Linked DNA regions of Homo sapiens: region 2 is linked to region 1. Evidence: fine-mapped expression QTL. Tissue or cell type: pituitary. Region 1 holds a variant in brackets; the other region holds the start of a gene. All regions are shown on one strand. Distances are between the middles of the regions. Region 1 overlaps THRB (thyroid hormone receptor beta). Region 2 holds the start of THRB-AS2 (THRB antisense RNA 2).

Region 1 (15,986 bases):
CAGGCTGATTATTATTTTGGAATGTCCCTTAATTTAAGTTTGATGGATGTTTCCTCATGATTTTTTTTAGACAAGGTCTCACTTTGTTGCCCAAGCTGGAGTGCAGTGGTGAGCTAATAGCTCACTGCAGCCCTGAACTCCTGGCCTAAAGTGATTTACCCACCTTGGCCTCCTTTGCTCTGGGTTACAGGCATGAGCCACCGCACCCAGCCTTTCCTCATGATTAGAATCAGATTATACATTTTGGACAGAGATACTAAAAAATTGTATGATACGGTGTTTGTTCCTATAAAATTTTGAATTTAATTATATGATGCAGAAATAGTTTTCAATCTTCCAAACCACTTATATCTTAGTGTGAGCAGGCCTAGATCTTTACTGGTGAGCTGGCTCATTATCTTACTGGGTTAGAAGAAAGTATATTTTCTAAAGTCCTCTAATAAGCAGCTATTCAATGCTCTAAAGGTGAATGTCAGAAGAAAAAGTTACTTGTTTCTCTGTCCCCTGTGACATTTTTAAGGTTGGACCCATAGGATGATACTTACCTAGGGAACACCTTTCTCCATAATAGGGGCAAAGAGCACATTGTCCACGGTCTGAAGACTTTTCTGAAGATTAAAAAAAAGACACAGCCACTTTATTCTCGTCTCATATTTTAACTAAACATTCTTTTCTTTCCACAATCCAATCATATTACATTACAAAACAACTAAGATCAGAGTATGTCTTGATAACCTTGATATTTATTGTGTAACTTTCTAGAACATTTTGACATTTGAAATAAAATGAAGAATTTCAATTTGCCATTTCTGGATTTGGATCTCAAGGGCACCAACATGAAGTAGATCCTATTTTTGCAAACTTTTACAAATCCTTTTTCTCTACTCATCCTTCAAGGCCCAATTCAGACATCGCTTCCTCTGTGCGCCCCCATGCCCCATCAGAATGAATTTGGATTTTTGTTTTTAATGCTGTGATGAAATTTTGTACAAGTATTCATTGTGTTCTGCCTTATTTAATTGTGGCTTCTGAACATGCCTGTTTGATTCACTGCAGATGGTGAATTCGTCATAATTTATACTGACAATGTTTTAAATTGAGTGTGTTCTGTGTGTCCAATACTGTACTATATGCTGAGAATAAAAAGTTAAATGCACACCCCTTTTTTCGTAGGATTTTTCAAACAGAAAATGTTGGCAGAGCTTCGAGTCTAGGCTTGCAATGAGCAGTAACTCTGTTGACAACCAAGCGATGATGAAAATTCTATTGGCTGGCTGGCATTTGTCTTAGGAAAGAATAATGAAGAATGTAACCTACGTTGTTTCAAAAATAATGATTCCATTTTACTCCATGTTCACTTAACACTTGAAGTATTCAGTGTGTGGGATACTGTTTTCTGCTTGCTGATAGGTATTTTTAGTTTGATTGCAAATTTCAGAGTCAGGGCCAGGTCTTCCTTCTATAGTGTATCTCCATTAGATCTGGGAGAATAACATACATGGTATTGATACATAAATGATGTAAACTTTATTTTATTTTGAGAATCAGTCTTAATTAACTCAAGCTGTTTGTAGCCCTGCATCTATTTTTGTAAAGCTTCACTGAGATATAATTTACATGCCATCAAATTCCCCTGTTTTAAGTGTATAGTTCAATGATTGTTAGTATATTTACAGAGGCATGCAACCATCATCAGGATCTTATTTTAGAACATTTCCATCATCCCAAAAGAAACTTTGAGTCGTTTACAGTTACTCCCCATTCCTGTGCCCAGCCTCTGGCAACCATTTTTCTTTCAGTCCCTGTAGATTTGCCTTTTCTGAAGCTTAACAAAAGTGGAATGCTACAATACGTGGTCTTGTATGACTGGCATCTTTCTCTTAGTATACTGTTTTTGAGATTCACCCACAATGTAGCATGTATCAGTACTTTGAACTTTTTACCTTTTATTATTTTTATAACATTTTCAAGTATAATGTAGGACTGGAGCCTTTACTGACAAAGAATAAATCTTTTGAAACTACATCAGCTGTGGCATAGTCTAAATTTTGCACTAGTTGTTCTTAAGGGTGAAAAAGCAAAGTAAATGCAGGTGATTCAATTGTTCATTCATTATTCCTATTATTAGGGAAATTTGTTTTAAAATTAATCTCTGACATGCTATTCTGGGATAAAGAAAGTATACTGTAGCTGTTAAATGTCAAAATTATTCCACTTAAACAACCACTCAACTTTTCACATCAAGTCGATCATTGTGAATTACAGTGAAATAATTATCTTAACACATTAAGGGGAAACATATCTACTTTATCTAATGATTAAATTAAAAAATACATTAAATGAGTTGCTATGTGAAATTCAAGCAAAACATAAATGATATTTATAAAAACAAAATATCGAAGAGCATTTTTTTCTAGAGATATAAGGAAACATATTGACTATAATAAATATACAATGTGACATTAAATTAAGCACATCTTTGGAAAAACAGATAAATCATTGAAGTGATCTTAGAATTTGTGTTGAAACACATTATTAGTCACCCAGAAATTCAAAAACAATAAAATAATTTTCCACTTAGAAAAGCATAGCGTGGAAGTGGGAAAAGTGATTTCTAGAATAGTAACTTGAGGGCCTAAATTTCAATACTAACCTTTTCCCTTTGTAATTATGTACAGTAAGAAAAGCACCCCTCAGTTTTCCACTGTGCAAAATGAATGGAAATACCTTCCCAAGCAATCTTATTGTTTATAAAGACACCATGCAATAGACCTCATCATTATTATGTAGCCAATTGTCTAATTAAAGGTACACCAAAACTGAAATATTTTTGCATTTTTTTATGCCATGATATTCAAGCCACATCAGACTATATTAGATTCATTAAGGTTGGTTTTGAATCAAATGTTCATTTATAAAAAAGAGCAGACATTCCACTGTTGGCTTAGCAAATAGAAGACTTCAATGATGATAACAGTGGTCTGAAGTATATTTCAAATTTTTCACTTTTCTTTCAATCTCCAGCCTTACGAATACTATTCTGTTCACTTTTGTATATGTGCATTTTTCTTTTGGTGTGGATCCTGAGCTCTTTTTGAATAGTATCTCATTCTCTCAAAGCACAAGAAGACTTTATGATTTGCCTTTGGTCTTCTTGGGAAATATCAGTCAGAATAAAACCCTTGATCGTTATCCCAGAGTTCTTATGTGAAAGACACTATGCTAGGACTCCAGTCTTTAATCAGCACTGTTCCATCCACTGGAAATACTATGCAAGAAAGGGCTTGGAATAGTAAAAACGTGTCTGGGAATTTTGGACCCTACAACCCATTACTTGAAAACTTAAATGGAACAAATCTTGAATTTAGGCTGAAATCAGACTATATATTGTTTCTCAATATGCAGAAGAGGATTTCATGGACTAAACATCCAGCAAAGATTGTTTAGTAATTTTCTGAGTGTATAAATTCCCTTGTCTGACATGATTAAGTTTCTGGACTCATCAAAGAGGACAGATGACAAACCACGAAGAATCACTGCATGTCAGTCACTATAGCCCTACAGTTTCCCAGACTCCAGCGTAAGCTGCTAAATGGCATAAGGGCAGCAAAACAGAGACATACCATTTTGGACATAAATATGGTATTTGCATGCATTGAGAATACCACTTATCAGTCTTATGACTGTGGGCAAGTTATGGAACCTCCCTGAGTCTCAGTTTCCTTATCTCTAAAACAGGAACAGTCATGTCTACAAGCAGGATTGCTGTGAGGCTTAAATGATATAATCTATAGGAAAGTGGTTAGCACAGTGCATGGGCCACTGTACGCAGGAAACTGTGTGTGACCAAGCCAGAGAGATGCTGTTCAACAAAACTGCAAATGGCCAGCATTCAGGTCATATGAGAAAGTGGCAAGAGATAAGAGTAGAAAGTAGTCAGGAGCTACATTGCAAAAGACTTCTAAGTCTTTAAGCTTTATCTTAAAAACTAAAGATTATTGCAAGCTAGGATTGGGGTTGTGGGAGGGGTAACAGGTGACATGCTTTAGATTCTCCTTTAAAATCAATTCCCCTAGCTGCAACGTGGTGGATGAATGGAAAGATCAGAGTAAGATGAGAGGTATAGAAACCTCTTGGGTTAGCCAAGTTTTCTCTTAAAAATGAAATGATTAGTTTAATTAAAATAGTAACAGCATAGAATAGTTGGCCCTTTGTGACTAGAGGCTGTGGCAAAGCTACAGAGAGATAAGCAAGCTGTAACGAAAAGTCCAAGTATGTAATTTCTACTTGAACAGATCTGGATTTGAATCCTCACTCTTCAAATTACCATTGTGCCACTTCAGACAAATAGATTTTTTTTCATCTATTAAAAAAATGTGGCTACATTAGGACAAATACCTAATGCATGCCCGGCTTAACACGTAGATGACAGGTTGACAGGTGCAGCAAACCACCATGGCACACGTATACCTATGTAACAAACCTGCACGTCCTGCACATGTATCCCAGAACTTGAAGTAAAATAAAAATTTTTTTTAAAATGTGGCCAGTCATAGCTGCTGTAGGACTATTGTGATGTTTAAATAAGATGATGCATATAAACACCCAACACAGAATCTGACACACTGAGTTTAGAATTGGTATGTGAGGTACCTTGGCATCCACAGAAAGGGGTTTGGTAGGTGGCTGGAATGCAGGTCTGGAAGGCACAAGAGAGATTAAGCACCATCTGCACACGGGCAATAGCTGAAGCTGTAGACACTGATGGCTTCACCTGGAAGAATATGTATGGTTAGAAGAGGGCTGAGAATAGAACCAAAGTTATGGCCAATTGTAAAAGACAGATGAGGAGATCATCCCTTGAAGATGACTGAAAAGAACTGTCCAGGGATAGAGGAGACATGTGGGAAAAGGCTGTATGACATGGAGGTTTCTGGTATACCATCAATAGGTTTGGCTGTGGAGTTGGGTGGAAGCAGAGAGCTTGTGCTGTTGTGATAGTATTATGTCCAAAGACCCAAAAATGTCAGATATCACTGCTCCTGTTGACAGTCTGGAGTGACAGTGATAAAGTTTGTTGTGTATTATGGTACTGGTAGTGCATGGTCACCAAAACTCAAAGTAGAGGCCAGGAAAATTGAGCTGCATTGGCCACATGGAGCACGCCGTTCTTCCTAGCCTAATTAGGCCTAAAACATTTTAGATCAAGGACAAAGTCAATACACCTGCCAGGACCAGGAGAAAACCAACAGAAGAAGACAGAAGTTTTGAGAATCCAGGGCTCAAGGTAACAGCCAGTGATGCTAGAAAAGTTGACACAGACTAGCTAGAGCAACTTCAGCCTTTACTAAGACAGTGGTTCTCAAACTTCGGCTAGTATCAGAATCCCCTGGAGGGCTTGCTGTCCCCACCCCCCAGAGTTTACGATCCAGTTGGTCTGGGGTGGGCTGCAGAATTTGCATTTCTAAGAAGTTCCAGGATATGCTAATGCTGCTGGTTCAGAAACCACCATTTGAGAATCACTGACCTAAGAATTTTGGACTCTTTTATAATCTTTGTGGAACCACAAAAGGCTGTTCTTTTTAACTTGCTCATCCTAGAAATTGACATATTTCATCTAGTAAAAGGCTGCTGTAGCTAAGTTTGTGGTATCTTTTGCATTAATGTGCTGAGGCAATTATTCCACCTTTGTGAAATAAAACATGCAACTCCAAAATTTAGACCCACAAAGAGGGTGTCCAGGTTGAGGAAGCCACCAGGACTGCCTTGATGAGAGTCTCTTGCCCTTTGGAAATCTCTCAGTTCAATTACTGGGCCTGCTTCCATCAGCTTGGTCCCTGAGACTGTCTTGTTCCTGCTTCAATGTTCTAATCAGAGCCAATTTTTTTCCACTGCACCAGATCAGAATCCATTCCCTTTTCACTAGTAAAACACTGTCACTTTTTCAAGCACATTTTTGTAAAAGCATATTCTGCTTGGTGATCGATTGTGAACAAAAGTCTCCCCTTAGTGCCCTTTTGTAGAGCTGTAATGGGCTAGAACTATCAAAAGCTTTTATGAAATGCCAAGGGAAAAAATTAGAAACAAATTCAGTTAACAATATGTTTTAAAAGAGAAGAGCTTTGAGTTTCTATTCCTACTGAAACAGACTTAATTCAAGAGCCCAAGAGGCCCTGGTCTTGTCCTGTGCCCACCTGGGGATTTGCATTTCCATGTGTCCAGCCTGCCTCTTCTGGCCGGCAGCTTTCCTCGTTGGTAAAGACCCTAAAAAGGACACTCCCCTTCAGCAGATTTCTTCTCTCTGTTCTTGGTGTGTAATCTGAGAAATGCACTGTTATGTATCCGTGCCTTAAGCTCCAGCATATATATCCAACAGAGCAGATGACTAGGTTTTTCAAAGTATGTTTCATGGAACACTTGTAACAAATGTTACAAGATACACACAGGGTTCTATGATCAGAAATGTTTAGGAAATGCTGTTATACAAAGTCATTCAAAGTTGTGTGTGTGTGAATCTCCAAGAGAGGAGCATTAATGTGTCATTTCCCAAACTCATTTGATTATAAAGTTTATTTTTATTGTTTTCTCTTTAGATCATCTCTTGGGACTGTATTATGGGACCACTTAGGGAACACCATCTGAATATTAACCCAGTAGCCATGGTGTTCATTTATTAAGAATTACACCATTACAGTAGTGGTAGGGGAGGAGGAGCCATGCTAATTAACACTCCCAGGACTGAGGAAGTAAAAGTTTCTAAAATGGTTAGAGTTTTGCATGATCTAGTGACTCAAGGCTTTATATTATTTGGCAGAAATGCTGAGGAGGGACAGTCAATCCCCAGGCCTAAGACAAGTTCCTTTACTCCCTTTCCTCCACAGCACCTTTTTAACCCTAGAACACTAGGCCCAGGTGGGAAAATAAAGGCCCCACCTACAATAGGAGAAATGATACAGTCAAAGCAGGAGTGGGTCACGGCCTCAACGGCTACCACCTACCATGTGACAAGTCACTTCATCCCCTTGGGATTCAGTTTTCTCATAATCAGATAAAATACATGTGGAATGCATAGCTCAGAAGTTCCTGCTGTAATATCCTAGGATCCTAAGAAAACATAAAACAGGTCTCAGCCTCCATAAGTGTTCCATATGTGTTAGCGTCTGGAGGGAGGGCTGCTTTAAAGTTGGGTGCTCCGGAAGTCCCAGGAGCTTGCCCTGCTCACATCTCTGGAGTTGAACTGATTTGAAGTCCTTTTCAAAAGCAATGAGTCCGAAGATTCCAGACCTCAACAATCCAAGAAAGCATGGTCAAAAAGTTTTTGTGCACCTCTTTGGTTTCCGCCAAAATGTATTAGATGTGCTTTCAGCACTTCAGTGGTAAGATCGAGACTCATGCTTCTTTACATTTTTAAAGGAAACTTTCCTCAATTTGAGTAGTTACTTCAAAGGGCAGCAAATGTCTCAATCCTTTTTATCATCTCTTTTGGGGCAGAGATGATTGGCACTGATGATGGTTACTTGTAATTCCATAACCTCAACTGAGGTAAGTTTAATAAACAGCTCTATCTCTGTTCTCTTGTGACGAAGATATAAAAGAACAAACTGGATCGATTTTAGACAGACAGATATCTCCCAGAAACTTTCAAGCCTAAGATAATCCACTTATTGCAATATGTAACATTTTATCTTTTTTTTTTTTAAATGCACATGGATTTTGGTGCAGAGAGTCCTCCATCTTTTTTCTGAGAGAGCAAGTGTTGTTATGTATATGAAGAGTGTCAGGGCTTTCAGGCCTCTGATGGTATCAAGAGGTTCCTGACACACAAAATGTCACTTAGGCTCCATCCAAACAAATGAGAAGGGCTCTGTCCTGTGAAGAGCTAAAGGGAGGAATATATCAGACAGACAGAAGAACATGTGCAGCGTCCTTGAATTGAGGCAGGCAAAAACTTGGAGTGCTCAAGGAATAATAAGGATGCTATTTTGGTTTATGTCAAGGAAGCAGGAGGGTTGATAAGTAGTGGGGAAGGACCACCTTTTGGTAGAGGTTTGGATTTTGTTCTAAATACAGTACAAAGCCACTGAAGGTTTTAAACAAGGAAGAAACATTATCTGATTTGCAGCCTGTAAAACATCACTCTTTGGTGGCTGTGTCAAGAAAATATTAAAGTGGGCCAAAGCTAATGAGAAAGCCAGAAGGGAGTCCAGTTAGGAGATGATGATGGATTGGACTGCGAGATGGCAGCGGAGAGAAGGAAGTAGTTGGATTAAACATATATTTTGGAGGAAGAACCAATGAACTTGCTAATGAATTGGATTTAGGTAGTGAAGGGAAGAAAAGAGTTGTCTTGAAGGTTATTTGCTTAAGCTCCCAGGT[G/A]GATGGTGGTGCCAAGATGGGACTACTGTGAGAGGAACAGGTTTTAGAAAGAATTAAGTTGGAGATGCCCTGGTTGGGCAAATGGAGATGTCAAGTTGATGGTTGGATATAGGATCCTGGTTTCAGAGGTGACATCTGCGATGGAGATATCCACATGGATGTTGCATATAATTAGTATTTAAAGCTGTGAGACAGGATGAGATCAGCTAGAGCAGGGCTTGGCAAACTTTTTCTCCAAAATACCAGGTGGTAAATATTTTCAGCAGGCTATAAGGTCTCTCTTGCAACTACTCAACTCTGCCATGGTAGCACAAAAGCAGCCACAGGCAATATGTAACAAATAAAAGCTGTATTCCAGTAAACTTTATTTACGAAACAGGTGGTGGGTCATGTTTGGCCCACAGGCTGAAGATTGCTGACCTGTGACCTAGAGTATAGACTGAGAAGTAGCCCAAGACAAGACCTAAGAGATATATATTATAATATATATATATAATATATATTATTATAATTATTATGTATATATAATTATGTCACTTACTAGGCCAGTCATCATTCTAAGTGCTTTACTTATATAAACTCACTTAATCTTCACAATAACCAATGAAGTGACTACCGTTATCTGTTTTACAAATAAGAAAACTGTGACCTAAATAAGTTTATTTCTGTCTCGAGAAAAAAAGAAGTCCAGAAGTTGGCAGTCCAGTGCTAGTATGGCAATTCTGTGTATTTCAGCAACCTAGAATTTTCCAGATCATTCTTCCGTAATCCCTAGAGTATAGTCCTCACTCTCATGGACCAAAATGATGGCTGGGGCTCCAGTCATTGCAGGGAGCAGAAAGTCAAAACAAAGTAGAGGCAAATGGAATGCACCAGTTGTCTTTTAATGTGTCTTTTAAGTTTCCTAGAAATTGCCTTGCAACACTTCTTCTATTACATCTCGTTGGCCAGAAGTTAGTCACACAGACACATATTGACAAAGGGGAAACTGGGACGTATAGTTTTTTTCTCAGGGGCCATGAGCCCAACTAAAATTTAGCGGTTCAATTACTAAAACAGAAAGTGAGAACAATCATTAGAGTGGAAGTTAAAAGGCTCTGACCAGTTGCTTTAAAGCTTATCAATTATCTTTCTTTATGTGTATTTTTGCAAGTACAGTTAGTTGATAGCACCCTTCCTAAGACATTTCTGCTCAGCCATTTCATATCTTAGGCCTCCACTGATGATGTCCTACATACTCTTCCAGCTCACTGGTCACCTCTTCTGTGAAGCCATCCCTGGCACTCTAGGCAGATTACTCCTGTGTCCCCATGCCAAGTTTATTACACTTCTCCTTGTATTTCGTTCTTTCCTAGCGTGCCTCCTTTTGTGCTGCCTCCTCTGCTTGACTGGTTAACTCAAAGGCAGGTGAAGCCTGGTTGAAGTGTGGAGGGTAAATTGCTAAGAACTAAGGGAAATATGTAGTGAAGCTGCAAATGAAGAAAAAGGAGTTAGTACACAGGATTTCCTGCTCCTTGGTGAAGGGACTGGGGTCAGACACCTAGTAGAACAAGTGGTTCTCAAATGTTGCTACTTATGTAAATAACCTCAGGAACTTCTTTTAAAAATCTTGATGCTAAAGTTTCACCCATAATTATTAAAGCGGACTTTCTATAAGTCACACCTAGGCGCATATATATATATATATATATTATTGATTGAAACACTTCTAATCGGAATTATTAAAGTCCTCCTGAGTTTATTTAAGGCAGTTGGATGCACTATAAGTGAAATAACTCTTAAGCTGCTCTTTAAATAATTAGAGCAGGCAATCAAGAAAATAAGACAACAACCTCACTGAAGCTTACCCCATTTGTGACACATAATATGTTTAGATTGCTTTACTGACTTTACAAAGAAGCATGCAAGACTGAATCACAGGTGACAGATGTGATTGCTTCTATCAGGATGTGAGGGGCCATATTTCAAATTCAATGTAAGTGTTGAGCTCCATTTTCAACTAATAGTAATGAAAGTTTTGTGCATTCGTTACAAGTAAAGAGTATTCCCACTTGGTATGAGGAGTGTTTCAGAATGTTTTGTTCTCTTTTCTCCAAACAATAAACATTCGTGAGGAAGTGAGCTCTCTTAAATATGTTTTGAAACTTTTTTTAATTTAAAGATTTCTGAGGGAATTCAGGATTTTTTAAATTCAATAAAAATACTGTTGACCTTTCTGACGTTTAGTAAAAAGAGAGAGAAAGTTTTTCAGCAGCTATTCTTTCCTTTTTCACTGCAGTATTTATATCCAGTTCCAGGGGAGAATAACTCTCCAATTTTTCAAGCATATTTAGAGATTTCTGAAAATTATTTTTAAGTATTCCTTTGGAATAAAAGTTGAGTCTCTGATTTTCGTTGATATTGTTACTGATGAAAAGCAAGAAATTGCTTGGATTTCTGCCTTTAATGAGAAAGAGAGGGAGCCAGGAAATGCACTGGGCAAAACTGCAAAATCGAATGGATTCAACACGCAGCTCTTAACCAGAAAAAGAGACTTTGGAACATGTGCATTTGCCAAAAAAGAAAACTGCTTTATTGAAAGGTTAATTTTCAGATTAGGCTTGGGAAATTTGAGATAAATAAATGACATCAGACAAAAAAACATAAGGCCTGGATCCTTTTTCCTGGGGTTTTCAGAAAATAGTTATTGCTTCCAATGAAATGTTTTGACATTTCCAGTAGGGAGAAAATGTTAATTGTAATATTGTGTATGTGTTCTTAGTAACACTGAATAAATCTTTCATTTGTTTTAATGGTAATCAGAAAGTAAAAACACGATTAAAATGTTAGCTGTGTTCTTTATTCCTTATGGTAACTTTTCATGCTTTCTAGGATATTGTGATTCATTTTCCAGGTTCAAATATATACCAACTGACGAACATGCTTTTGCTTGTTTTATATCAGTTGCAGTTTTTAAAGGAGTCTTATTACTATCCTCCACATAGGTCTGCCTGGGTCTCTTTTCTAATTTTGTCACATCTTTAGCTCATTCTACAATTCCCCACCTTTTCCCTTGAGTCTATGGCTCCTTTACTACATTTATAAAAAGTCAGCAATTAAAGACAGCACAATGGTGGTCCACTTGACTGTATATTTAATATACATGCTATTAAGCTACTTATTGACAGAGACGGTGATTTTTTTTTTCTGAACAGCCATCTCTGTAGCCACCAACTCCTTGCTTTGTACTTAACAGACACCCCATAATTTGTTGAATGACTGTAATACCCTCCTTACTTCTGCCATATGTCCCTGTCCCAGAATTCCACGTTGCAATTGATGACTGGAGCTACATGTCCAAAGCAAAGGTCTCACTGTTGAAAATTACAGTATTACATTGTTGATGGTCCTTTAGAGACAAATACCAACAAGGTCACATGCTCATGGACCAGCAGGAAGCCAAATGTAAACGTAACCACCTGAGGCCGAGCCCTGAAAACAAGCTGCCTAAGAAACGGAAGGAATCCCTAGTGTAGAAGAGCAGCATCCGCCCTTCCTGATGTCATGATCTACAACTATGCATATATGTGACATGCACACACTGGCCACCATCCACAGGGAGAAAATACCATTAGTAATCATCCTAGCAAGCATTCACAATCTAATTTGGTATTTGTTAACTCCTTAGTTAAAAGATATGATGATTCTTACAGAAAATGCTGTTCCCTTTTTGATCACTATCTTTAAGTAAGTACATGAATACCACTTAAATCACATTAAATCTTGAAAATAATCTCAAAAGCAGATTTGAATGGGAATAAAGTGGTAAGTGTTTACAGTTTTCCACGCACTACTGATCAGAGTACTGTTAAGCACCAACAGAAAAGGAAAGCTGCTATATAATAGGGGTATTCCTCATATAGGGGCATTGGCATACAGTCTCTCATGCCTTTATAAAGAAAACATAAATTACAGAATTGAACAGTTAATGTAAGCTTTAGGTCTCATGTAGATTAGTGCTTATGAAGTAGAAAATAATCATGCGCAAGGAACAGAATAAAACTCACTTGCAGACATCAGCAGCATTTTCAACCGTGTACTTCCTTGGCATGTTTTAAAAACCAGCGGGACCTATGTGTCATGGGAAGATGGTTGGATCCTAGTATGAAAACCCAGTCAGTAACATTCAACAACAGATTCAACCACCAATATTTGCACAGCTAGATTAATGTTTTGGAGTCAGTCAGTCATCAGGCTCATTACTACTGGATTTTCTCTGGTTCATGCTAATAAACTAGATTATTGATTTTAGGATTTTCTTTGTATCCAAGGATATTCTCTAAGATGTCTTTATAATGTTTCATGCTTAAGCTGTCAACCAAAATGACATAACAATGAGTAATCGTTTTATAATCATGTTGAAAGGGGTTAAAAACAGCATATAAAATGCATCTTAGCAGCTTCAGAGTAACATTCTCGCTGTCACTTCCCTATCTGGGTGGAGGTCATTCCTACCTGCCTGCCATCTTCCCCAGGAATTAACTAGCTGCATGCACAGCTTAAGACCTTTGATAGTCATAAATCTGCTTTCCAATATGTTTGGATGGCAGAAGAGCTCAAAAGACACCTCGGTCTAAATAGGATTTTAGCACATCAGGTGCTATTACAAAGTAAAGCAGGCTGGGTTGCTGTGTTGGTGGTGGTGTTTATTCATCTTCCCTTCGCGTTTCATGTGTATGTATGTATGCTTCTCTGCGTATATGCCCAGCTCTCAGGGTGTATGGGGCTGGAGAATGCATGCGTAGACTGTGTGTATATGTAAACTAGAAACTGAACCAGGGAAACAAAATGAACTACTGTATGCAAGAAATATATGAAGTGCACCCAGCTGCCGGCAGCAATTGCTACATGCAGTCCACTGATTATTACGCGTATTTTGAAGATAGTCCGGGTTACAGCGGTTGCGATGCTCAGGCTGTGCCCAGTAACAACATATATATGGAACAGGCCTGGGCAGTGAATCAGCCTTATACCTGTAGTTACCCTGGAAACATGTTTAAAAGCAAGGACTCTGACTTGGACATGGCCCTGAATCAATACAGCCAACCTGAATATTTCACTGAAGAAAAGCCTACTTTTTCTCAAGTGCAGTCGCCATCGTATTCTCAAAAAAAAGGTAGGGACCATTTTGCTTAAATTTGTTCAAAGTTTCACTGTTTGTTTTCGTTTCATTTTAAAGTTACAGTTTACATCAGCTTCGTCAAATCTTTGAATTTGAACGCTAAATATTTGAAATTAAAAACGGCAGTAAGAGGGGTTGCTAGGTGATTGAAGGACTCTGTGAACATCAAGATTTCCAAGCACTTTTTTTCTTCATCTTTGAAAGCTGGAGTGAGTTGCCTTTCTGTATTTTGCATGTGTGTGTATATATTGCCCAAAGTGACTATTGTTGGCTTCTTTGCGAAAGAAAATATGTGAAAGGTTTCCTTCTGGCGGGTAGGTGTTGTGGTGTTTGAAGTGAGATAATTCTCTCTAGTTCAGGTTCAGATTAAAAACTCATTTGACTTTTCCTTGGCACTTCATTTTGAAAGTTTATTTTAGTTGACTAGTTAACTAGTAAAATATTTAGTGATTTAGTGATTTCTTTAACAGTACTATACTAATGTTGATTTGCTAGGATCTGTAAATGTTCATTTTAATGTATTTATTTATCCATGTAAACAGTAAAGAATCTATTTGTAACCATGTCAAACTGTAAGATGTAAAACTCAAAAACTGAGAAACTTTACTTTGCTATTTTGTCCCTAAAGTTGAACATGTCTGTAATCATATCAAGTGAATTCTCTTTATGAAAGCAAGTGAAACACACTTCAAAATAGCCAATATTAAAACCAGTACGATATCCATTTATCTTAATAGACACTGTGGCTTTATAATGCTATTTAAATTTCTGTCAATAGAACATTTCTTGTATTACTGAAAAATAAGATACTGAAAAATAAAATAAGGGAGGCAAACAGGTAGAACATTAAGTAGCAACTGCCAGATAGGAATGCTTTTGAAGATAGTGTAAATGCTAGTGCAGATATGCCAGAATCTCATGCTTTTGTATATAATCTATAGGATATTGCATAGAGAACCAAATTTACGAGTTTCTATAATTTACAAAAACATGATGCCCTTTGATCCTCAAAGGTAAATTTCTCTGTTAAATTAATCTTAAAACATAATGTGGTTTATTTAGTTGTGGTTTCTATAAAATTTATCATTTGCTTTTCTTAATGTGACTTTATAATTGAAAGTAGTCTGTTATGAAAACAAATGAACAAAATTTTATAAAAACAAAAACTAGAATCTGTAATTTTTACTATATATAATGTTATTCTATAACTTCCAATCATGAAATATTAAGGGGATTACAGCATGAAATATATTTAGAGTTTCTCATCTTGATTTTTATTTATAAATATAGAGTTTTGCATCCTTTTGAAGGTCATCAGAATCTCATTTATTACAAGGGATACACAGGGTAAGTCCCCTAATGGAAACATTTGAGGTACATTGAACATGTGCTATTTCATTTAATAGTATAAGTAATTTAACTTTGAAAAGAAGAAATTAACATTGCCTCATTAAACATACTTGGATATGCCTTTTGTAGTGTTGTAAGAAAATATTGGTACCTGTCAATCTATGTGCTCATTCTGCTGTTCTTAAAAATTCCTGCAGAACGTTTCAGGCTCTTTTCTCTTTTATCTTTTCACTGTATTTTCTTCAACCAACACTGGGGAATATTTGCTTATAAAATGTTAAACCAGGGGTTCTTTATTAATTAATTTGATGCATGAACTAAAGGAAAAGACACATTGTATGCATATATTGATGTAATTTCAAAGCCATATGTCATTGAAAGGCCACCGCCACCTGCCAAACTCACTAAATCAAAACAGGCAAATATTCTTAAATGCACCATTATTTACTTTTACAAGTCTTCGAGTAAATCCCAGTAAAACTAAACCCAGCTGTTAACTGTCTCTTAGGACAAAAGGTTGTACCCAACATGTTTATCCATATTGATCCACTATTGATTTTTGTTGTGTTGAATGACATCAGTAGTGTCTCGTTAAGGCAAAATTAAGACCATAAACAGGTGTTCAGTGGGGTAGGCCTCATTTTCCAATTGGATTTTTATCTATTCACAATAGATAAAAGTTCATAATTGCTTCATCTGTGTTCATGGCTGTCATTACAGCTTTATAAACTCCAATACTGCAGCTGTGTTAACTTTTTCTTTATTTTTTTAAGGATGGCTTATTTCCTAGCCTTTATTTTCTAATATACAGAGAATCTTGTAAAAAAAAATTACAATCTTATAAAAAAATTATAGGTACAAACTGGTGAAATAAAGGAAGGCTACACTACCCAATGTTAAGAATGGTTATCTTAATTGGTAGACTTTAGAATAACTTTTAGTTTCCCTTGGATTGTTTTTCTACAAAGTTTTTTTTTTTTTTTTGCATTCATAGCCGACAGAATAAGTTATCAAGTTCTGGAAGCATTAAGAACACGAACTAAGGAAGAGTCAGATGTCAGTTCATTGAATCACATTTAAAATAAAGCTTCAAGAATTG
Region 2 (15,986 bases), 21 kb after region 1:
GTAAAGAAAGAGACTCCAAGACTCCAAGCAGGGGTAGGCAGGGTGGGAAAACAGTGGATGTTCTGAGGAAAGATTGTGAATTGTGTGAAGTGGGAGCCCCTGGGGCAGCTCTGCTAATAATTTGCAGAGGGCAATGGATGAAGGCCTCCAAAGTTAATGCTGTTTCAAGTTTGTACCAAGTGTCTTCCACACAGTACACCCATACATGCTGTTAAATAAACAAATGGATGAATGCATGGTTTAATTTAATATAGTGTCTATCACAGGGTTAAAGATTAACATGATATAAAGCTTGGTACCTAATGCCAAGAATTAAATATAAAAGGAATCAGGATTCGTATGTTGGGGAAAGGCTAAAGGATAACCCTTTCAAGGTTTTTAAGTTTGTCAAGAAATGACATAGGGAAGGTGCTGGTGGGGAAAACAAGCTTAAATCATCAGGTCTGAGCTGCAGGATGAACTGAGGAGGTTCAGTATAAAATCAGAAGAGTGACTAAGCATGCTAGTGACTTAGCTTCCTGAAGGGTGACAAAATACAGTCTCATCCTCTATCCCGTCCCAAGATCAGATACCTACTGGCTCTGAGTTGATAGCTCTACAAGATGAATCAGCAACATGGAACTTCTTCACTTCTCTGAGCTACCCAAAGTATTTCCCACTACCGCAAACCACAGCCCCTCCCTTAAGATGCCAGGACTGGTTCTGCTAGGCAAGTGGTCTTATACAGATGATAAGATTTGCCAGTTTGGAAAAGATCTCTGAACTCAGCTCTTCTCACATGCTGCTACTTCTGCTCTCCTAGGCAGCACCTTATATTTTAGATCTACTTTCAAGATTAATCTGCTTTATATTCTATTCCCTAAGGGCCATGTATCTGCCAAGGTGACAAGAGGAACCAGTGTTTCTCCTCCTAGGACCTGAGATGCTGTTATAATTCACTCAAAAGAATTAAACTAGCCAGCCTTCTGATCTTGCCCATAGGGAAGAAAGCATTGAATCTGTTTTCAACCAAGAAGGCAAGCTTACTACCTGTTGCATCCTTTGTAGTGCAAATGTACAAAACTTTCCCCTTCTACATGACAAGTCGCTCAGAGAATATTTTTTAAATAGCATTAACTGTAAGATATTCAAGATAATACTTAGCAATTAACCAGACATTGCCAAATGTCAACTGAAAAAATCTCAAGTCCTTTGTTGAACAGATGGAGTTTGCTTTTATAAAAATATGCTTGATAAAGTGGCAGCATAATGTATTAATCTGAAAAATAATACATCTGAGCAGACAAGAGCTGAGGGAAATATATCATTTTTGAACTATCATATATTGTCATGGACCTTAATTTTTTCTGGAGGGTTATTGACCAGGCTTCTTTAGCAGTCACCTGGGACAACTAGCAGATGCAGTTCCTGACATGAACAGTCGTAGCTTCCAGGATTGTGTCTGTAGTATTTGTTTCTAGGCAGAATCCAACGCTGACATTATGACACTCATCAGTGTCCACTCTTGGCAACAAAACTAATGATACATGTGCATTTTCCTTAGTTTGGCATACTGACCATTGTGTAACTCATTTGGTGAGTATGACAAAGGAAAATGATGGAGACACTAAAATACAACAGGAAATACAACAGCAAGAAATGGTTAAGTTCTCTAGGAGAATTGGTTAGTATGTAATGTTGTCAATCATGTTCAGTAACCTTAAGAGAATCCTCACCTACCTAGTCACTATGTGTGGGACATTATTCCCTGATGGAAGTTATTTAATGAAGAATAATGGACTTAGGCATAATGATTGATGTATCATTGCCTGTGGTGACTGTTTTGGATAAATAAGATGGTTCAGAGTTAATATGTTACAGAAAAGAAAGCAAGGGGTGGGGTGCACTAGTATGATCATGTAAGTAGCTGCCACCAACTTAAGTAGATGTTTCTGTAGAAGTTTTGATGATTTAACTAAAGTCATTTAATCACCTCCACCCATGAAGAAGATAGTCTAGGAGAAATAAGAGAGTAAAGCACACCACCTCTCAGCCTAGCAGTCAGTAAATGAAAGGAGTCCATTCCAGTCACTGATTGAATTATTGTTGGATTCCACAAGAACCTTAAACACCATCTACATAAATTGTTGAACTACAGGTAGGAATAAATCTTCAGTGTCTGGCTGCCAATGCCAAAAGATAAAGCCAGCAGGTCTCATGAGACAGGCTGGGGTAGTATGAGGTGAGAGGGAACTACCTGCATCTTCCCAACTCTGGTTAATGTTCTTGGACACCTTGTTTTGACCCCTCCCAAGTCATGTCCCACAAGTACAGCAGTGTTCAAGTGTATCACAATTGGTTCTCATACCTGAGATTAGACAGAAATGACTTGTACCTCTTTTTCCCTTATCTCTGCATTCCATACTTGATACTAAGAACTTGAAAGTCTTCATTCTGTTGGATTAATTGTGTATAACCTCGAGGTATAAGAGGTTCAGATGTAGCTTTTTTGACAGTATGGGTCTGTATATTCCATCTGCCTTTACCAGGAAGGTGCCTGTTTTCCTAATTGAGTTACTTTGTGGTTTAAAAGTTACTTTGTGTTTTATAAGTAGGTCTTTATATGCACACAAAAGCACATGAGCACACCTCCTTACCAACACTTGTGACTGTGTCATTTTTGTTAAAACCATACTAGTGAGTGTAAAGTGGTATCTCATTGTGGTTTTGATTTGCATTTCCCTGCAATGATGTTGAGCATCTTTTCATGTTCTTCCCTTCATTTTCACCTCTCTTTTTCTCATTGAAGAATGACCAAGGCTACAGAAACAGAACTCAGCTTATGAGTTTACAAAGGAAGAAACCATGTCTTACTCATTTTTGTATTTTCAGCACCTAGAACAATGCTAAGCACATGTAGATGCTAAATAAATGTTTTCTGAATTCATAGATAAATGACTGAATGAACGCGCAAAGCATTCTAGTTCCCTTTTTTCTCTGCCCAGATCCTTCCCAGAATTCCCTTTTTAAAAATGACTGACAAGAGTTTTGAAACCCTTGCAGTGAACTCAACAGATGAATCATGGTTTGCATGATGCAAAAGTAAACTAAGAAAAGCTGTGATATTTAAAAATATAATCCTGTACATTACTAAACCTCACTTTCAAGTCAATTATCTGCCTCCCAAGAAGGAACATTTTTCTAAATTAAAGTTGGAGCAACATAATTTCTAAGAAATTATGAAAAGGATTTATTTCATTCTGTTTCCTTAATGGCTTTTTTTCTGAAAAGCAAGACTTCAGTGACCTAGTTTAATAAAAGGTCTATGAAATGTCACGGTAAGATACACAGTAAGGCATCAGTCATTTCAACCTAGCTAATCTTTATTGGAACAAAGAAGACTTTGCTGAACTGAGTCAAAAAACTTCATAAGGACCATGATAGGGAGAAAGGATTGTTTCTCAGCCTCTTCCTTCTTCACATCCCAACCAATCCTGCCTCATTTTGATTGTTTGGTCTTATGTGAAGCTGTGTGATTCTATATATCACATAATTTATCAATGGTAAACCATTGATAGAGGGGAGAATGAACCTGCCCTCCTGAATCAGCATCTTGTGTCTGGGCATCCTCTCCACAGGAAGCTGAAGGAGCAAAGACAGGAGGGAAACAGGAGGCTTCTGCTTTTGTGCTTTTTAGCTTCCTGAGTCAAGGAATTTAAACTAATAAACTCATTGTCCACTAAAAAAGAGAGTTATCATAGTTGGATTTTCCTTTTTTCTTAATAAACAAAACCTCTGTCATTTCACACTATCCAGTGTTGTTGGATTGCATATCATAATATCACAAGTTTACCTAACTTTTTTAGGTGGCAAAATTCATTCTACTTAAAGTCAACTCTCCATTTTTAGAAAAAGACCAGCATATTACACTGGAGGGCTAGAAATTAAGAGACTGGGGTTTTAGTCCTGCCTGTAATTTCCAGTGAGACCCTGAGGAAGGCCAAACCTCTGCAGGCCTGTTTCTTCACCTTACAAGGACTTCGTCATCTCCCGGGACCTTTCCAGCTATAAAGTTTTCTGAATTCATTGCATGGTACTGTGATTCCAAAGTGGATCAAATCTTGTGAAAACAGGTTTTGAAATAAGCCTTGTTAAATAGATTGTGTTATCTAGAACTCACAGTGCTCAAATCCTGGCCTCTCTGCTTGAGTCACTGGCTCTACAGCCTTCCTGCCATTCCCACCTGCACAGCAAGTGATCACAGCTATCTTTCTTTCTTTCTTTCTTTCTTTCTTTCTTTCTTTTTTTTTTTTTGGCAGAATTTCGCTCTTGTCGCCCAGGCTGGAGTGCAGTGGCACAATCTCAGCTCACTGCAACCTCTGCCTCCTGGGTTCAAGTGATTATCTTGCCTCAGCCTCCTGAGTAGCTGGGATTACAGGTGCCTGTCACCATGCCCGGCTAATTATTTGTATTTTTAGTAGAGAGAGGGTTTTGCCATGTTGGCCAGGCTGGTCTTGAACTCCTGACCCCAGGTGATCCACCTGCCTGGGCCTCCCAAAGTGCTGGGATTATAGGTGTGAGCTATTTCTAAGGCATTCTGAAATCCTGGGCCTATGTTAACTCTATGAGTATAAAATTCTTACCGTTTGGTTTCACTAAGTCTTTACTGTTGTTACCTCTTCCTGGCAAGCCAATTTTGTCTCTGGCCTAGCAACCTTAGCTATAGTGTCTCTTTGACGTTAACATATTATTTTTTAATATTCCTTCTTTTATTTCCTTCACAGGGTACATCCCCAGTTACTTAGACAAGGACGAGCTCTGTGTAGTGTGTGGTGACAAAGCCACCGGGTATCACTACCGCTGTATCACGTGTGAAGGCTGCAAGGTAATTGCCCTGGGTCCACAAGCACAGAGCTTAGCCCAGCTCCAGTCCCCTCCCAGTCCTCTTCCAGAATGCAATGTTAAGTTTAAATTCAAATTAAAATCAAATTCTAACATCCATGGTCTGTGATCATCCAGGTGTCTGGTTGTGCTCTTCATTTTTGACATGTTCAAGAACTGAATTTTTTTCCCAAATCATAAATAACTAAATGAGTGTAATGTCTGGTTTCTTTACTTCTGCAAGTGTTTTTAAAACAGGAAGAGAATCAATAAAATAAAAAGAAATTAATAAAACTCTTACTTTGGGTTTAAAAAGCATAGGTCCTTTTTAACATGTTGTCATCCCGAGAAATGACTGTTTCTCTTCTTGTTTTATCTACAGTGTTGGAGGAGACAGAGTTTACTCTACCACAGGCTGTTTTCTGCTGTTAGTCTGAGTGAATATGCTCATTTTCAAGGGTTCCAATAGGGAATATCTTTGAGGCTACTTAGATTCAGTTATGTTCTGAAATTATCCAAGTTGGCTTTTCGCACAGCCTGCAGTGACTAAGTAGATTCTGGTCATCCATCGGCTAATTTTGTGCTGTACAGTCCTATCTGCAGGAAATACTTGACAAGAATATACCAGTGATCAGTCCATTCACTTCCTGAAACTGAACCTAAATTGGCCTACTTACAAGACTTCATCAACAAAATTCAGATAAGGTTTCTGGAAAATATCTTTTGGTCCAACAATCTAGCCTTGAAAATGAAATCTACCATAAAGGAAAAAGCTTGACCCAGTGCTGTATTTCGTGTCTGTTCAGCTAATGTTTCATAAATAAAGAAGTATTTAAAGTCAGGGAAGGACTTTTAAAATTGTTTACTTGTTAAATACCTTGTCTTTTTTACCTCTTATATTTAAAACTAAATTATCAAGATGTAAACCCTAAAGCAAAAATTGTATTAAATGTATAAAACATTTCACCTTCCCTCCTCTCTCATCCACCTTACCTCTTTTTCTCTTCTTCCGCTTCTCCAACTGCCCCGCTTTGTTCATACCCTTGCTCGTAAAGCCCCCAAATCAACATGTTAGCTCAGTTTCAAATTAAGGTGTTTTCCTTTTCCCTAGTGGAAGATTTTCCATGCAAATTCCCTATGTTTTTGTACGTGACATTAGGAAACATTTAGGAGAAGGCTGCTAAAAATGTTGAGATAATACATCCATTGGAAAGGGGTAATTTCTAAGGTTGCAAGACTTGCTTTTTGGAATGTGGTGTAACATGTTCTTATTTATCCAGACCCCTTTGATCTGGAATTCGTAGTCCTTTAACAAAGACTGGGCTAAAGGTTGCCATTACATCTATGAAAATAATGTCTTAGGGAATTTAATGAATCTAATTACAAGTAAGTTCTGGCTATTTATTAATTAGAGACTTGCAGACAGTCTCTTGAAAGTAGTTTTATTGGCTTGATTTGAAAGTAATAAAACTACATAACTTTAGGTACCTACTCTCATTCCAAAAGTTCGATAATTCAAACTAGACTTTTCTCTAAATTAGTCCCAATTCATAAGGCTTTCCCTACCTTAGTTGCAGCACTGAGATTCTTCTAAATCGGCGCATAATGGGAAATTTCGAATTCTGGGAGAGAGATCCTGATTCCATTTAATATGGAATTCAATTTAATACTTAATTCCCCAAAATGACTCTAAAGAGTGAATGTGCCTTACAGAGGACAATACGTTATTAGTGACTGACTTAAACAAAGAGAGAATTGAGCCTATTAACCTATATCCCTGCCTCACATATGTCTTCAGGATGATCAAGAAATCAACTAGCCTGTTTTCCCTAGATCACAGGATGTTTGGAGCCTGGATCAGCTGAGGTTTTCTTAAAAGAAGAAATCGTGTAGCAAAATCTAGATTTTTTTTCAGATTCTGTGACTTTGTCTCAGGTCAGAATCCTGTTTCTAGGGTTGCCTTCATTGTAAAATCAGAGAAGAGCCTTCCCAGGGTACTTGTGCGGATCACTTAATATAATGACAAAGCATCTTGGAAAAAGACAAACGAGTTTTTCAAGTGAAACACGGTTTTTAAGAGTGGTGAAAGATGAAAGGGTTAATTGTTTCCTATATCGTTTATTCAAACCTGTAATTTAAAAATATTTCTACCCCATACTTGCAATGTGTATGGAGAGAATCCTTTTTGCCAGTTTTCACCCTGAGAAGAGTGAAATCTTTTGGAGATGTCATGTCTGTTGTGATATCCAAGTTTTTACACATCTTTTGTAGAAAGGATATTGATACTGTCCCACAGCAAACTATTTTTAGAGAAAGAATCAAAGCTTTTCAACAGCTGCCTGAATAGTGAACTAGAAGAGTGAGTTATCTCCTTTTCACATTGATCAGTGAATCATCTCAAAGTACTAAAAAATGGATACAGTTCTTCTCAGAATACAAAGAAACATGTCTGATATTGATTTATAAAAGCAAGACCTCTTCTTACCAACAAATCATCAATGAAATATATGTCCTTATTTATTGCCCAGGGCATCTCTTTTGTCAGCTCATCTCTAAAAGGATTTTTTTAAAATAAGTAGACTGTTTTAAATGTCTTCAAGTCCACTTCCAAGAGTTAATTTCTGTTACTTTTTAAAATGAAGTGGTTCCTTATCATACATCAAAATATGCTTTAATTATAGCTTAAGAAAGGCCAACATTTTAAGAAGAAAATCAAGAAAAAACAAAAAAAAGAAAGGCCAACATCTTTAAAAGGATTTGGTCCATGAAGTGCCCAAGACAAGTCATCAGAGATAGGCCACAGAAAAGATGGCATAGTGTATAGTAGAGCTAGCTATCTCAACTCTTTTGTGGAAATAAGCAAAGTATAAATTATTTCATTCATCCCAATAAAAAGTGAACAGAGTGACTTTTTGGAGTGTCTGGTGTGTCACACCTCATTCTCTGCTTAGCGTGGTCTTACTGGTCAATGTACTCCTTGCCCTAAACCCACCCCTGAACATGAGTCAGCATCAGAGTATGAGGGAGACAAGGGTCTCCCCAACTTCAGATAGACTAACAATCTTCCTATCCTAGTAAGCCGTCAGCATTCTTACTGGATGTCTTGGACTTTGGTATTTCTACCTCTAGGAAATTATTGTTTCCTCCAGAAGGAGGCGTGCTACCCTACCCCTCCCCTCCCTGTCTGTGACATACATCTTCTTGCCAGGAATCTCTGGGTTTCTTTAGTTCTCCTTTGCCCTCCTTGGTCAGAGGGTAGCAGAGAGAAAAGCTAGGTTTGCAGGGAAACTTGTTTTTCACTCTCATGGCATGCTCTGACATTCATGCTTTGGCAAGATTTGCCCACCCTGCACACCCAGGAAATCATTGCCAACATCTCCAACAACTGCCCTGCGTGTGAATGAGTGAATCTTGTAACAGTGTATGAACATCACTGAAATTAATGGACTCAAGTGCTTAGGAACACAGAACCCAAATATAATATTGACAGTTTTCTGTTAGAACTTGAACAATGGAAATGATAAGGGATTTGCATATACGCCCCAAAATCAAGTCTGTTAGTCTCAGTTATTCCTGATGTTTTTCTATTTTATTCTGCTTTGCCCAATATAAAATCCTACCTCGGGCATTTTCATAATAAGAAAGAGCTTTTGTGTCTGAAGGAGGAATATGCAATAGGGTATACGTATATAATCAAAGCCAAAGAACATTAACCGGGATCATAAAAATTTGGGCTGAATCTAGATCAACTGATATTTCCCACCATTTATCTAGCAAAGTTAGAGGACCCCTTTAGGCCTTAGCAGAAGACATCCATCAAAACTTGTTTTGCCACCAGGAACAGTGGCTCATGCCTGTAATCCCAGCACTTTGGGAGGCGGAGGCAGACGGATCACTTGAGGCCAGGTGTTGGAGACCAGCCTGGCCAATATGGCAAAAACGCATCTCTACTAAAAATACAAAAATTAGCCAGGCGTGGTGGCTCACGCCTATAATCCCAGCACTTTGGGAGGCCAAGGAGGACGGATCACTGAAGGCCAGGAGTTCGAGACCAGCCTGGCCAACATGGCAAAACCCCGTCTCTACTAAAAATACAAAAATTAGCCAGGTGTGGTAGCACACGCCTGTAATCCCAGCTACTCTGGATGCTAAGATATGAGAATCACTTGCACCCTGGAGGTGGAGGTTGTAGTGAGCCAAGATCGCACCACTGCACCCCAGCCTAGGTGACAGAGCGAGACTCTGTCTCAAAAAAAATTTTTTTTAATTTCTTACATTTTAAAACACTCATTTTGCCTTGTTATCCTACCAACAGTTAAAATGAACTTTTTAAGTGGCTGGGGCAGGACTGTTTATAATCTGTTGATCTAAAACATTCAAGTAATACAGTAAAATTTACTTCATTATACATCATATAAGCAGTTAAGCAAGTAAGATGTGGAGTGCCGCTCCTGGGTTGCAAGGGAGGTGGGGGTCATTGCTGGGTGGTTTCCATCCTACCTGAAGTTCCCACATGTACTTACCATGTGATTTGGGCAAGCGATTTAACCTGTCTGAGGTTTACTTTTTTAATCCCTACCATGGAAATATTTAGAGCACCTCCTTTACATGATTGTAGGGAAGATAGAAGGATATTGAATGTTTCTACAGCACTTAGCAATGTGCCCTCACAATAAGTGCTCACTGCTGTTATTAACTTCTACAATACAGATGACAGTTGCCTCAACTTGAGGATCACGTCCAGAAAAATTCTAGTATTGCACATTCTTGAGAATATTACCTAAGTCACCCAAACCTAGAACTAAACAGTGTCCCCAGATGCTACAGAGGTGCTCTCTCATGCCTTAAGAAAGGAAGAATCATTGAACCTGTAGGTGTATGTCTACAGATACCAAAGAAAGAGTGTTATAAAAGGAAAACCTCAATGCAATGAGCTATGGGGAAAAACTTGGTAGAAAACCTGGAGCGTTCTACTCCCTGAGTCCTATTGTTTGAAAGGCTAAGTGAGCTGATCATGGCTGTCTCAAGATTCAAAAACAAGTATTAAACTAAATCCAGGAAGCCAGCTAGTACATCTGTTTAATTACTAAATTATTAGATTTTTAATTAATAAAGTATTGCAAGTATCCATGTCTTTTCATTTTTTTCACTTTCTTCTTGGTCTTGGAGCTCTCTTATTACTCAGTATAAAGTAGCAAAACTCCTCATAGCTTAATTTAGCAACACAATTATGTCAGTATATGAAATAGAACAGTATAATTTACTTATATATTCAATATTTAGAAAAAATAAAAACAAGCGCTAGATGTTCCTACTAGCCTCTTTTCCTTGAATAAAGACCAAAAAAAAAGGTGTTGACTCTGTAGTCCTATGGCATCATCAGCTCAGATTTAGAACTCTCTAGATCCTTCTGGGCCAACTGTCTTATATTTGAATATGTGGAGCTAGAGGCCTAGAAACAGGTTAAGGTCCAAAACGATTCATCTCATAGTTATATGGACACAAAATTCCAGAATCACTGATTTCAAGAAAATATGAAACTGTTGTCTTGGGTCTTTGTTTTTCATATAGGGTTTCTTTAGAAGAACCATTCAGAAAAATCTCCATCCATCCTATTCCTGTAAATATGAAGGAAAATGTGTCATAGACAAAGTCACGCGAAATCAGTGCCAGGAATGTCGCTTTAAGAAATGCATCTATGTTGGCATGGCAACAGATTGTAAGTAGATCTTCACTTGCTTCATATTCAAGGAATGTTGATTAGGAAACAGTTTGGTTCAAGGAGATCGACTGGGCAGAAAAGAAGGCAGGAACCCAAGAAGACAGAGAAGGGAATACCTTACTTTCGCATACACCCCTCACTCCCCACATCCAGGCTTGCCCTGAAAGGGAGGTGGGAGCCATTGCTGGGTGGGTTCCATCCTACCCTGTCATACCACCTCCTAACTGTCAAAGTATGGATGATGGAGGAGGAAATGCAGTTAAATTATCCCTATCACATTTGCAGGCCTAGTTGTTAGCAACACTCTGTTTGAGACAGAGATTACAAATGAGAGGTCTGGTCCATTTACCTTGATAAGGTATCATTCTATACACAGTGTTCACATGGGGTAGAGCCTCAGGGACTAGTCCTAATATTTTTTCAAGAGCAAAGACAGGAATTTATTTTATGGACATTTTTGGAGATGGGGCGCTGGCAGAAAACATCGTGTTCAGAAATTTCTGAAGAATGCAAAGTTGAGTGCTATTGCATGAGTCATCCTGCAGTTGGTTGTTTGTTATATTTTTAGCAATAAAGACATTCCGAGCTGAAGTCGTCCTACCCAGTTTTCAAAGTGCTACAGCATATGGTGGCGAGATTAGCCCTTGGGGTCTCTTCTCCCCACACTGTGCGAGGGATTTACACCAGTCACTTTAATTAATCTAATCATAAAAATAAGAATCATGTCATTCAGAATGTGTGGCCTCCCTTTTGCCAGGCATCAGTATTAATGATTCTACTGGCATAAATTTTTTGCACATCAGTGAGAGATTCCAACTATTAGTTAAAAATTAAAAAGAAAAAGAAAGATAAAAAATGAAGAAAGAAAAAAGAAAATACAGTGAGGATTTTTCCTGATGAAAGAAGTAATCATGACTCACATTTTATGTGAGAAATAGAGTTCTTTCACTGAGAAAAAAAAATCTGTGAAATGTTCTGGTTTGCCCATTAAAGAAGAAGGAATGGAGAATCTTTAAAAAGGAAGAGGGTTATGTTAGAGTGTTAGGCTGGAAATCCTGGGTTAATCCCCACCTCTGGCTGAGTATTTTCTTTATCTTTATCTCTTAAAGGCCTTTAGCCCTTGCCAACAATATGCCTGATAGGGATATGTGAATATGATTGACTTACAGCCAAATACTTAGATATGCCACTATGACAAACTTATTATTGATTATCTATTTCAGTGTTCTATTGAGAAGTTTAAGATACTAGTGTCTATGAGGTTTAAAAACTCAGTGTTAATCTAGACTGTATGGAAATAAATTTTGAGTGCCCTTTACTTGCTTGTGAGGGATTCTAAGAGCTCAGGCTTTCTAATCAGAAAAACTTCTGTTCGAGTCCCAGATCTGTCACTTACTAGCTGTGTGACCTTTGGAATTAAGCTGAGATTTTCCTTCTGTGAAATCATTGCCTACCTTGTAGAGTTGTTTTCAAGATTAAATTAGATAATGTTCATCAAATACAACAGTCCCTGGCACACCGGAAGCATTTGGGAAGGGGTTGAGGGTATTATTACCATTCCTCCTTTCCCTTTAGTAACTGAACCAAAATGACTTAACAGGGCTCATTCATATTTTCCTCATTTGTAAGCGCTCACATGACTTTGACAATCCAATCAAATCTAAATGGTCTGGAATTTAATATTCTCTTTAAATTAGAATATTTAAATGGGAGACTAGCTAGGCACCTTGGTTCTCCTTCTCTTGCTATGTCTGCTTTTTTTCTTTTCCTACCAGGTCACACCTTCATCAAGAAATGGCCCTAGGACAGTGATGTCGTAGAACTGGAGTCAGGAGTCCTGGGTCTTGCCTTGGCTCTGCCATTAACTTGCTCTGTGACTTTAGGCAAGTCACGACCTCTCTGGATCAATTTCTTCTTCTTTCTGTGAAAAGACAGAGTAGGACTAGATGACGTCTAAGTTCCCTTCCAGTTCTAAAATACTATGACTCTGCAATGTAAAACCTGAGCCTTTCCATTCCATTGATAGTTACCAAGTCTAGTGAAACGGTTTTGGTTTTGGAAATTGACCACAGAAATATAGGTTTCTTGTTACCTGCCCTTCTGATTTTCCTTTCACCCAAATGATAGAAGTCAGGACTGCATTTACTGAGCACTTATAATGCATTATCACATTGAATACTCTGTGAAGTGGGTATTATTGAGCCCATTTTGTATAGGAAGAAATGAAAGCTCAGAGAACCTAAGGAACTTGCCAGAGGTCACACAGCTAGAATGTAATAATATCAGAATTCAAACCCAAGTCTTTCTAGATTCCAAAGCCTGGACTCTTTAACCACCCTTGAGGGTGGACCAGGTAGAGAATAATGTACAGTGAGTACCTTGAGGCCCAGGTGAGGCCCAGCCACATTCCAATTAGCCCTTAAGGGAGCCATGAAGAGTTGGGGTCCTTTTTCCTCTTAAAAAAAGGGATCACGAGCCTCCCACTTACTGCTCCATAACGTTTCTTTTTTTAATTCCATAACGTTTCTTTAACCTGAAGTTCTCTTTACTAAGAGCCGTTTTAGGGGAAGCGGGGAGGACAGAAACCCAGAGAGTGAATTCGGATGACTGGCTGGACAGATTTCTCTGTGATCTTGTGGGTAGTATGGATTTTACCTCTCTGCTTCACTCTGTTTTAGAACCACCTTCTGTGGAGTTGGAGTGCGCAGTGTCTAGGTTCTCTGGGGACTTTGTTTTGAAAAGCTGGCCGGTCATGGGGAGTTTGGCTCTAGAGACCATGTTGGACAAGACTAGTCAATGGCAGTTTGCTGGTGAGGAGAGAAACTGTCCCAGTGTGACCCACCCCGAAGGACCCAGTAAGCCATCTGTGCATCAGTGGTCCCACTCCTGAGGCTCCAGGAAGTGCAGCTTGCTGTGTATCTTGGGAGCATCTGTGTGCCTTGTCTCATCTTTCTCCCCCTCCCAGTGGTGCTGGATGACAGCAAGAGGCTGGCCAAGAGGAAGCTGATAGAGGAGAACCGGGAGAAAAGACGGCGGGAAGAGCTGCAGAAGTCCATCGGGCACAAGCCAGAGCCCACAGACGAGGAATGGGAGCTCATCAAAACTGTCACCGAAGCCCATGTGGCGACCAACGCCCAAGGCAGCCACTGGAAGCAAAAACGGAAATTCCTGGTAAGGCTTCCTTGCACAGATCAGTTTCACTTATATGCCAGTGTTTTCTACCTCAATTTATTCAGTCCTCATCACCTTGGGATACTGGTGTTATTGCCTCATTTTACTGATAGGGAAACCGTAGCTCTGAGAGGCTGAGTAACTTGCAAAGCTAGGATTTGAGTCTAGGTCTGTGTGAGAATAAAGGCCACTCCTACCATCTACTTTGTGATTTGCTGAATTCTAAAACAGTTTCTTAGGCCACATTATATCAGTTTGCTTTTACTGTTAGAAAGACCACTCCCAGACCAACTAATTAGTAAAATGTTTTGTCTGCCATCTTTTACTTTCTATACCCATTTCTTTCCTTAGATGCCCAGTATATACATATTTAGTCCCTGAACTCAATCCCAAATATTCCCTTTATAATAGCCTCTAGGCCTCAAGTATATTTTTATGTCAACAGAAGTCAAAATTTTTTAGCTTAAATTAAATGAGCTTGACTCAAGAAGGGCAATGGGAATGAGGGAGTAGGGATAGGGTTGGTGGGCACGAGTGTGTAGAGAAAAAAGACCTTCCAGACCCTTGCAATATTGATGTTTAATATTCTTATAAAAATTACCAGTTGTGAAAATTCTTCCCATTCATTTTTTATTCAGACTTCATAGTGTTTTGAGGTAAGCTGGAATTACTATCCCCATTTTACAGACATGCAAACCAAGCCCAAGGCCTTAAGCCGCTTGCCCAGGATCGCACTGCTAAAAGCCAGGCACCAAAACCAACTCGGTCTTCTGGTTCCAAGTCCAGGCTCTCCACCCACCTCATTAGAAAGACTACGTGCCCTACTAGTGCTGGACCATCTCAGAGACTGACTCTGCTCTTAGTTTATGATATAAAACCCTTTTCAAGTACCTACCTGACAACAGATATTCTGTGGTTTCATTTGTATCCCTAGGACACATTAGAGTACTTCCCCATCTGAACAAGAAGATATAGTGGTATAATTATCCTTGTACCTCAACATTAACATTACAATGAGATAGTGGATCTTTTTCTTAAAACAACATAACAACAACCTTAAAGGAAGTTTTGGAAAGAAAAGGCTTATACATAATTCACCTGTACTGACACAATTACTTTCGTTGTAATGAAACAATAGTGCCAGCACTTTGTTGATGGCTTTCACTAACAGCAATGTCAGCAAATACCTAGATGGCCTTTACCATATGCCAGGTACTATTCTAAGTGCTTTTCATTCATTAACTTCCTATACCAATCCTGTAGGTAGATGTGGTTAATATCTCCATTTTACAGAAGAGAGAAGTAAGACACAGAAGTTGAGGAAACTTGCCTGAGCTCCCACAACTGGTAAACAGTGGTGATGGATGCAGCCAGCTCCGGGATTTATGTCTCTATCCACTACCCTATGCAATCTTGGCACCTGCACAAACCCAAAAAGCCTCTGAAAGATCCCAGCTCTTTGGAGGAGCAGCCTCTCAGTGCCTTGATCTTGCATCTTCACCCCACCCTGGTATATCTGCCAGAAAATTCAAAAGCACTAATTCTGGATTGATAGACAAATTCTAACACAGTACACTTGGGGCATAGCAAGACAGAGTCCTACCTAATTGCAAACTTAAATCCATCCTTTCCCCAAATGTGTCACCCATAAATGGACATTGTAGAAACCACTTCCAGGCCTGGCACTGTCTCCTGATTTCAAGTCGTGACCAAGCTGAATTCCAAGTAAGGTAGAAGATTTGAAGTTCATCCTGGACTTCTCCCGGGAATTTTATACTTTTATTGTCTTTACTCCCCATAGAGAAGGGATACTAGTCCAACTAAACTTGTTTAAGTAGTCATAAGGTGCTTCTTTCCAGACTTTAAAGATTTGTTCCTTTATTTAAGAAACATTTATTGAGTGGATACTATGTGCCAGAAAGTAAATAAGTCAGGCACATTCCTCTAGTGGGAGGCAGATAATAAGAGATAAACAAACAAAATAAATGCAGGTAGTGGTAAGTGCAATGAAGGCAATAAACAGTGTGATGGGATGAAGAGTTTGTGAACTGGAAGTGGGGAGAGACTTCATTTCTGTGAACATGGTGGTCAGAAGAAGCATCTCTGAGGAGATGACGTTGTGCTATGTCTGGAAGCAGAGAAACCACCTCTATAAAGCAAAATATAATCAAATATCTTCGTGCTGTGTGGTCACAATATCTAGTCATTAGAACCAGTCTTGAGGTCTGCACTG

What was found.
Region 2: it holds the start of THRB-AS2, and the variant in region 1 is fine-mapped to the expression of THRB-AS2 in pituitary (GTEx, PIP 0.91).

The regions. Positions count from the first base shown.
Region 1 is chr3:24,162,572-24,178,557 of GRCh38, reverse strand. All of the region lies in intron 5 of THRB (thyroid hormone receptor beta), which reads left to right. THRB-AS2 (THRB antisense RNA 2) reads right to left here. Exons shown (of 4, transcript NR_121667.1): 2 at 4,654-4,774; 3 at 546-608. Among named protein-coding and RNA genes, the nearest start is that of THRB-AS2, 19 kb to the right of the region's middle. The variant G/A (reference allele first, on the strand shown) is at 8,377.
Region 2 is chr3:24,141,268-24,157,253 of GRCh38, reverse strand. It overlaps THRB-AS2 (THRB antisense RNA 2), which reads right to left and starts at 5,930. Exons shown (of 4, transcript NR_121667.1): 1 at 5,854-5,930. It overlaps THRB (thyroid hormone receptor beta), which reads left to right. Exons shown (of 11, transcript NM_001354712.2): 6 at 4,764-4,864; 7 at 10,432-10,579; 8 at 13,548-13,753. RefSeq lists a silencer at 4,040-4,240 and an enhancer at 13,109-14,308.